2 separate regions of the Homo sapiens genome follow, and region 2 is linked to region 1. Evidence: fine-mapped expression QTL. A gene starts in region 1. The other region holds a variant in brackets. All regions are shown on one strand. Distances are from middle to middle.

Region 1 (4,395 bases):
TAGCCCGGCATGGTGGTACGTGCCTGTAATCCTAGCTACTCGGGAAGCTGAGGCAGGAGGATCGCTTGAACCCAGGAGGTGGAGGTTGCAGTGAGCTGAGATCACACCACTGCACACCAGCCTGGGCAACAGAGTGAGACTCTGTCTCAAAAAAGAAAACAAAACAAAACAAAAAAATAGAACTTTAAGGTGAGAAATGGGAAAGCAGTCCTGAATTGGTAGAAACCCTAGGCATATGGACAAATTGTTTATTTATTATTTGTTTGTTTATTTAAGAGTGATAATTTGCCAACATATTATTTTGCTAAATATTTTTAAAAGGATTATTGCAGCTGTAGAAAATATATAGAAAGCCATCTTAGGAAACTCTACCTCTTGCTTGCTGATATATAAATTGTAGTCAGCTTTTTCTTCTTTTTGTCACAACCTTTGGAGATTCCGGTAAAATGCCTCCTTCAGAATATTTCTGGGCATCCGTTATTTGTTTATTTATTTATTTTTTTTTTGGTTACATGAGTAAGTTCTCCAGTGGCAATTTCTGAGATTTTGGTGCACCCATCACCCAAGCAGTGTACCCTGTACCCAATGTGTAGTCTTTTATCTCTTGTCCCCGTCCTATCCTTCCCCCCAAGTTCCCAAAGTCCATTTTATCATTCTTACACCTTTGCATCCCCATAGCTTAGCTCCTACTTATGAGTGAGAATGTACAATGTTTGGTTTTCCATTCCTTAGTTACTTCAGTTAGAATAATGGTCTCCAGTTCCATCCAAGTTGCTACTAATGCCATTATTTCATTCCTTTTTATGGCTGAATGTTATTCCATTATATATATGTGTATATATACACATATATACCACAATTTCTCTATCCACTCATCGATTGATGGGCATTTGGGCTGGTTCCATAGTTTTGCAACTGCAAATTGTGCTGCTATTAACATGTGTGTGCAAGTATCTTTTTTGTATAATGACTTTTCTTCCTCTGGGTAGATACCCAGGTAGTGGGACTGCTGGATGAAATGGTAGATCCACTTTTAGTTCTTTAAGGAATCTCCACACTGTTTTCCATAGTGGTTTTACTAGTTTACATTCCCACCAGCAGCGTAAAAGTGTTCTCTTTTCCCCACATCCACACCAACATCTAATTTTTTAAATTTTTTGATTATGGCCAGTTTTGCTGGAGTAAGGTGGTATTACATTGTGGTTTTGATTTGCATTTCCCTTATAATTAGTGATATCTAGCCTTTTTTCATATGTTTGTTCACCATTTTTATATCTTCTTTTGAGAATTGTCTATTCATGTCCTTAGCCCATTTGTTGATGGGATTGCTTGTTTTTTTCTTGCTGGCTTGTTTGAGTTCCTTGTAGATTCTGAATATTAGTCCTTTGTTGGATATATAGATTGCAAAGATTTTTCCCACTCTGTGGGCTGTTTACTCTGCTGATTATTTCTTTTGCTGTGTAGAAGCTTTTTAGTTTAATCAAGCATTGTTTGGGCAAATTGTTACAAATCATTCCTGCAGGACTCCATTCAGCCTAGATAACCATACTTTTGGCCCAGTTCTCACAGAATTTCTACAGAAACCCTACCTCCTCAAAGTAATAAAAAGTTTGCATTACAATCGGACTAATATCAAAGAAAATAAAAATAACAATTGGGCTAATTATAATGATTACCTACATAGCTTTCTCCATTAACTAACTCACAACAGCTCTGTTAAGTAGTCAGGACAAATATTACCACCCCCGGTTCACAGCTGGAATAATAGTACTTGCATAATAATAATTCTTGAGGGATTCTTAAATGCTGGCACTGTGTTAATTTCTTTATATTCATCGAATATCCCCAATAACCCTACAGGTAGATACTATTATTTTCCCCATTTTCAGGCCAGGTAATTAATGAAGCTTAAAAATGTAAGTACCCTGCCCCCAGGAGTGCATAATTATTAAGTAGCAGAACCAATGCTTATATTTAAATCAGAAACACTCAGAAGTAGCATAAGAATTTAGTAAAAACGAAACACACCCTCGTGCAATCCGTATTATGTGGCCACGTGCCTACCAGGGTCAGCTGGATGGTACTTGTCTGCTAGAAGTGAGTCGAGGCAGAAGAATCAACACAGGAGCTGGAAGGGCCTCTGGAAATCAGCTGGGGACTAGAGACAGGTGTGCAGCCCTCGGTTTACAGAGGCTGTGAGACCAAGAGAGTTCCAAGACCTCCAGGAAAACATCTCCCTGCTAAAAGGCTTTCCCAACCTTTAGAAATCTATTCATTTTCCCCACTTTCCATCCTCTTTCTCTTGCTATCTCTTTATCGCTCCTCCTGCCTTCTTCCTTTCTTTCCTTCAGTAAACGTTTTTTGAAACGATGATGAGCAAAAAACGCCTGATCCAGTCTATGGCGCGTTTCGGTGGGAAGATGAACACGCCTTCCCAGCAGAGTAAAACGTGATTACACCAAGGACCGGTACCCTCTCCCTTCCCTCGGCCAGGTCCACGTCCCCAGGCGTCGGAGAAGGGGTTGGACCGCGCAGCGGGGCGTCAGAGTTGCCAGGCGCCCGGGGCAAATACCGGCAGCGGTGGTTGTGCGGTGTCCTAGCAACGGGGCGGCAGCAGGGCACACACACCGCCCAAGCCCGGACGGTGGCCGCGAAGCTAGGGCCACCATGGCGGACCGCAGGCGGCGGCTCCGGCCGGGGACGTTGGCCCCGGTGCGCGAGGGCGTGAACTGCAGGTCCAGGTAAACACTCAGCGCCCGGGCCGAGGGCGCATCCCACGCGGGCCGCGCGGGGGCGCCTGGAGACCCGCGCTTGCTGGGGCGGGGGCGAGGGGAGAGGTCCAGCCTGCCTTCCCTCCTCAATGCTTCCTGTACGTACAACATAATACGCTGAGATAACCAACGCTTGGCGCTGCTCTTTGCAAAGGATTTTTCCTGCTGTCATCCTCACAACCCCCGCCTCCCACGCCCCCAGGGATGTAGACTAATATCCCCATTTCTGATGGGAAAGTGATGGCCGCAGAGTCCGCTGCGGAGGCTGGTGCCCTCCTGCTAGCCACCCACCCTTTTCCGGCCTAGCCAACCAACTGTTCGCCAGATGCCCCGGGGCGCCTGGAGCCCTGTATCCGATGTTAGGCATCTGCTGCCCCTGGAGCCTTTGGTATCCAGATGGCGGCTGTGGCCAAGTGGAGCCCAGGGTTGGGGGAGCGCCTGGGGTGCTAGGGAGGTCTGCTAACATTTTGTACGGTTGTGGTAGCCTCAGAGCAGGAACAAGAAGGTTTTTGCCTTTACCGACTCCTTGACAATCTTTTGAGAATGGAATTCGTCTGTCTTGGAGACAGCACGATGTGGTGGTGAAGATTCCAAAGTCTAGAATCAGAAAGGCTTGAGTAGAAGGCTAGTTCTCCTCTTGTTTGCCTGGTGACCTTAGGCAAGTTGGTTGCTCCTTCTGGGCTCACTTTCCTAACTATAAAATGGGGCAATAACTTAGGAATCAGCTTTCTAAGATTGTCGTGAGGATTAATGGAGATAGCACATGTAAAGTTGTCACTGGCACATAGAACGTATCGTGTACATGTTAGCAATTATTCATAGTTGTTTCTAGCAGTTATTCATAAGAGCTTCTTTGGGAAGCTTCTCCCCCCCATTTAAAAATTTTGTTTTGAAATAACTGTAGGCTCACCAGAAGTTGCAGAAATAGTACAGAGGTCCCATGTACCCTTCCCCTAGCTGCTTACAGTGGTACCATTTTACATAACGATAGCACATTGCCAAACCAGGAAACGTCATTGGCAGAATATGCTAATTGAACTAGAGACCTTACTTGGATTTTATCAGCTCTTACTTGCACTCAGGTGTGTGAGTTCTGTAACATTTGGTCATATGTATACATAAAGATACAAAACTGTTCCTTCCCCACAGAGGAACTCTTAGTATTACCCCTTTGCTGTCACTTCTTTTCCCACCCCAGCCTTGTCAATCGCTAAGCTGCTCTCCATTTCTGTAAGTTAGTTCTTTTGAGAATGTTAGATAAACAGAATAATACAGTATGTAACTGTTTGAGACTGGCTCTTTTTCACTCATCATAAAGCCTCTGAGATCCATCCAAGTTGTGTGTATCAGTAGTTCATTTTTGTTGCTGAGTCGTGTTCCTTGGTGTGGATGTACCACAGTTTGTTTATCCATTCACTTGTTGAAGGACATTCAGGTTGTTTTGGACATTCCAGTTTTGGGGCTAATATGTAGAAAGCTGCTATCGACATTTGTGTACAGAATTTTCTGAGAACATACTTTTTCATTTCTTTAGGATACATGTCCGGTATCCTTTTGCAATTCTTAAAGAGGGAAATATCCATATATCATGTACTAGTGTCTGTGAAAACAGTAAATATTTAGA
Region 2 (4,395 bases), 320 kb after region 1:
CTTTTTTATCTGGGAAGTAAAGACAACCATCCACACTTCATATGGAGGTTGTAGCCATAAAGACAACCTGTGTATAGAAAAAAAACTCAGCCTTGGGTTTGGCACACTGTTATCAATCATCTCATTCATAAGTTCAACCATAGTTATTGAGCAGGTGCTGGCACCAGTTCTCAGCATATATGTGCTGAATGGAGGCATTTCTATTTTTCACTAAGTAGTTTTCCATACTGTTAGCTGTTTTATGAGTAAAAGAACAGATCCAACCGAGGAGGGTTTGGGGCTTACGTTTCTCACCAGTGAAAGTTAAACTAAAATTAGACCGAAATCCAATTTGTCAGGGGGGGAAATAAAGCAATGGGAAAAGGTGACTTGCTAATAACGATGGATATAAAACTTTAGTACGGGGTGGATGGGTGAGAGGTCACTGGCAAGGCTCCTCTCCTGACCTCCAGAGGGGTCATTTTGGAGAAACTGCTGCCTGCTTTATGAAGGTCAAAGCACCCAGAAATGAAAGGACTTAGCCTCAGGTCACAGGTCTAGTAAACCACAGAATGAGGAAGAGAAGTCAGGTTTTCTAGCACCAGCCAAGCCTGCTCTCTCAGGGCATACATAAAAATAGAAAACTCCAAAAGCCAGAGCTCCTTTTTGCCTTAATCTTATATTTTCTTTCTTACTGGTGGTAGGAAATGGATAATTTGGGATGTTCATGTTTTGTTAGATGATTCTCCCTTCTCTCTCTCACACATCTTTCCAGTTTTCCTAGTTTTCCAGTTTTCTTCCTATGACAGTTTTTTTTTTTTCCCCTCAAAGTGTGGTCTTTAGACAACTTGCATCAAAACGGCTGTGGTGTCTATTTAACTCGCAAATCCTTTGTACCTCTTCCTACATAAGACTGTCTTGAGGGAAGCCTGCCTTTTAACAGATGCCAACACCCACTGAAACTTGCAGCCTCTAGCCCTAAGGGAGTGGACATGCTCTTCTCTGGCTGGGTGAGGTCAACCCCATGAATCTTTCCTGCCTCATTGGCCCATGTAAGAGACAAAAGGATGAGATCAGTGTCCATTTGAGCAACTCCGTGGTTATTCTTCAAAGTCTCTAGCATCGTGCCTTTCCTTGGCCTTGATATATAGGTAAAGTTCAAAATTCAAATTTTCTACTTCAAATAAAGTTTGGGGATGGTTTTTATTTCTGTGAACTCCTTCAGAAACATTTTAGAACACAACCCAAATGCTCAGAAATGTTAAAACACACACACACACACACACACACACACGCACACCAGTACTTCTCAGCCTGCCACCTTTCCAAGGGCAGAGCAACCTGCAGCAGTTTCTAAAAATAGACCTTTCTGCTACAGGTCACTAAGCAGGAATGGCCTCCATGTCACTCTGTTTACAGTTTCACATCTGACACCTTCATAACAACTGTGCTGACTTGATGAGGCATGAGGACCAACATCAGTCTGTGGGAACTCCTGAGAAAATGCAACCTGGGGCTGTGGCTGGTGTGCAATCGGTGGCATCCCCACAAAATCCAGCCGTGTTTGGATTCAAGGCCCTTTCAACCTTTGTTTGCCATTCCTCGTCACCTTTCCATCACTGTCTCAAAGTCAGGGGCAGAGGTCAAAAACTCCGAGTCACTCCATGAGGTAGCAATGAATATAAACATGAGCTCATGTTCAGGAATTTAAGACTCACCGTGTTTTCTTTCGTTTTGTTTAATCTGTCTTGCATTTCTCCTCTTTGCAAACTTGTGGGTTTACAATGCATCATCTAGCTGCAAATTTAATTTTAGGCTCTTTCAAGAAAATGCTCAGAAAAGGCGAACTTATCTTTGCTATATTCAGGACAGCCCTGCAACAGTGAGGGCTGTGTAATAATTCATGCACATTCCCGTCCCAGTCCCTAAGTGTGCAGACTACGTGGGTGGTATTAGAATTAAAATTTCTTGGGATTAACATTCTAAAATTAAGAAATGGGGTCAAAGAATGGGGGCACTTGACACTAAATGTACATGAGGTGATTGGACTGGATTACTGAGCATTCACAGTCATAGGATTCCTAGTAAGTTCTGAAGAAGTGGACCAATTGTTATCAGTTTAGGATCCTACTTACAGGAATCATTTTTGATTTGCAAACTTAGCCTGCTATCTTTAAATAAATAATTTTAGTAAGCTCTCAAAATGTTAGCTTTGGGTGGGTGTCTAAGCATTTTCATTCTTTGATTTATTTCTCACAACACCAGTAATAGGGATTATTACTACTCTATTTTACAGACGAGGAGATAGACTTGCAAGAGGGCAGTCTTATCAAGGGGATACATGTGTTAAGTGTGAATTTAAACTCCAGTCTATCTGATACAAAAGCCCAAGCTTTTACATCAGTAAAAACTAGTTCAGTTGAGCTGGTTTTCAGTGATTGCTGAAATCCCTGAACCAATATGGGTTCTTCAGCCTCTGGGAGAAGAGGAGTTGGGCTTGGCCAATGCTTTTATTTGCTTTGCTTTAAAGAAAGCACACACTGGGCCCTTTTGTTTTCCCAGCAGTGTTGATTCACGTTCACTAAATAAATTAGCCTTCCCGTGTTGTCTCACTCATTTGACATTAGCAAGTTTACATGCCAATAAAAATAGAAATGGGAGAAACAATACTGCAAGAAGAGAGAAGTGGCAGAGGCGTTAGAGTGCACCAAGACATGAACACAAGCTCATCATTTTCTACACTCCTTTCAAAACAAAACAAAGCAAAACC[C/T]CACAGCTTGATTCCAATCACAGTTTGTTCTGTGATTTTATGTGGTTGAAATGCCTGATTAATACTGAAATGTTGTAACATTCATTATTTTGTAAGAGAATAGTTGAGACTTCCAATAAGATTTTATCATTTCTCTTCCAAATAGTGGAAGCCTGATAAATGATGTTAGGATTCTGTACTAGTCTTACTAGTACTTATTCATAGATCTAGAAGTCTCTGTGTCCATTGTGAGATGGGCTGTACGTGGGTCAAATACAGCTTCTGAAGAAGTTGAGATTTGTCTTTGTGCTCTGCTATTAACAGCATCCTAATGAAGCACTCAAGCTACTCCCATCTTCTCTCTGCTTCCTCCATACTGCGCCCCCCAGCCCAATCTCCCTAAAATCTTTCCTTCCTGAGAATTGTTCCTCCATATCTGCCTCTTTCCTGGATCCTCATCCAAACTTGCCTTTGCATTTCTTACTCCCTCAGAGCCTTGCTAGGAGATGATTTGCTAATCTTTGACATGGCTAAGAATAGTAAATGTCCTTTGAGAACAATACAATCTTGCACTAACATACAACGGGAATAATAAAGTTACTATTCATATTTTAAAGGGCAATTTTGCAGGTTGTCAACATCTTACCCTAAAGGAGTGAGTTCCCAATGGTGTAATCTCAGTGACAAACTGTATACCGTGATAGGTGACAGGACCTTCAGGTCATGGGCAGAAAGTGATCTTAATAAAGGCTGACCTTGGCCACTGCAGCCTGCATGTTCTGGGGCATCCTGAGGTCTCCCTGTGTGACTGACACTTCCCCTGAGGACTATTCCCAGTGCAGTCAGTAGGAAACCTTAGTGGTCAATGATGGTGGGCCAGGGAGGTGAGGGACAGAGGATGTGTCAGATATCCTAATAGTATATACAGTTTAAAGACTCATTTCATAATTTTGGGAGTTGTTTTCTAGGGATATTGTGATCGTTCAAATGTAAATATCTGCATCTTGAATATACTGGAAAAAAGTGATTGGCATGTTTTAGGGGCAGCTCTAGCAGTATAACAGTGTACGGGTTTGCCCCTTTATGGTTTGTGGGTAGGAAGAGATTTATTCTGAACTAGTTTTCTCTGCTACCCAACTGCTTATGAAATATGAACACAGGCTGGGTTCAGTGGCTCAAGCCTGTAATCCCAGCGCTTTGGGAGGCCAAAGCAGGTGGATCACTTGAGGTCAGGAGTTCGAGACCAGCCTGGTCAACACGGTTAAACCCTGTCTCTACTAAAAATACAAAAGATTAGCCAGGTGTGGTAGCACACGCCTGTAGTCCCAGCTGCTTGGGAGGCTGAGGCAGGAGAATTGCTTGAACCCAAGAGGAGAGGTTGCAGTGAGCTGAGATTGCACCACTGCACTCCAGCCTGGGTGACAGAGCTAGACACTGTCTCAAAAAAAAAATAAAAAAGAAAAAAGAAAGAAAGAAATATGAACACAAGCTTGAAACTCAATAAAATTGAGATTTAGATCTGTCACTTGCCCTCAACAGGCACAACAAGGTAAGGTGGCCAGATTTAACAATTAAAAATACAGATGTCCTATTAAATTTGAATTTCTGATAATCATTGAATTTATTTTAGTCAAAGTAGGTACCCAATTTTATCTACCAAACCTAGT

Evidence for each region. PIP is the estimated chance that this variant, and not a neighbour inherited with it, causes the effect.
Region 2: its variant is the best candidate, but not a certain one, in a credible set for the expression of FAM47E in ileum (GTEx, PIP 0.53).

The regions. Positions count from the first base shown.
Region 1 is chr4:76,249,080-76,253,474 of GRCh38, forward strand. FAM47E (family with sequence similarity 47 member E) reads left to right here and starts at 2,642. Exons shown (of 8, transcript NM_001136570.3): 1 at 2,642-2,741. The coding sequence starts at 2,668. FAM47E-STBD1 (FAM47E-STBD1 readthrough) reads left to right here and starts at 2,642. Exons shown (of 7, transcript NM_001242939.2): 1 at 2,642-2,741. The coding sequence starts at 2,668. LOC105377286 (a long non-coding RNA gene) reads right to left here and starts at 2,598. Exons shown (of 3, transcript XR_938897.4): 1 at 2,029-2,598.
Region 2 is chr4:76,568,912-76,573,306 of GRCh38, forward strand. All of the region lies in intron 2 of SHROOM3 (shroom family member 3), which reads left to right. Among named protein-coding and RNA genes, the nearest start is that of MIR4450, 2.5 kb to the right of the region's middle. The variant C/T (reference allele first, on the strand shown) is at 2,750.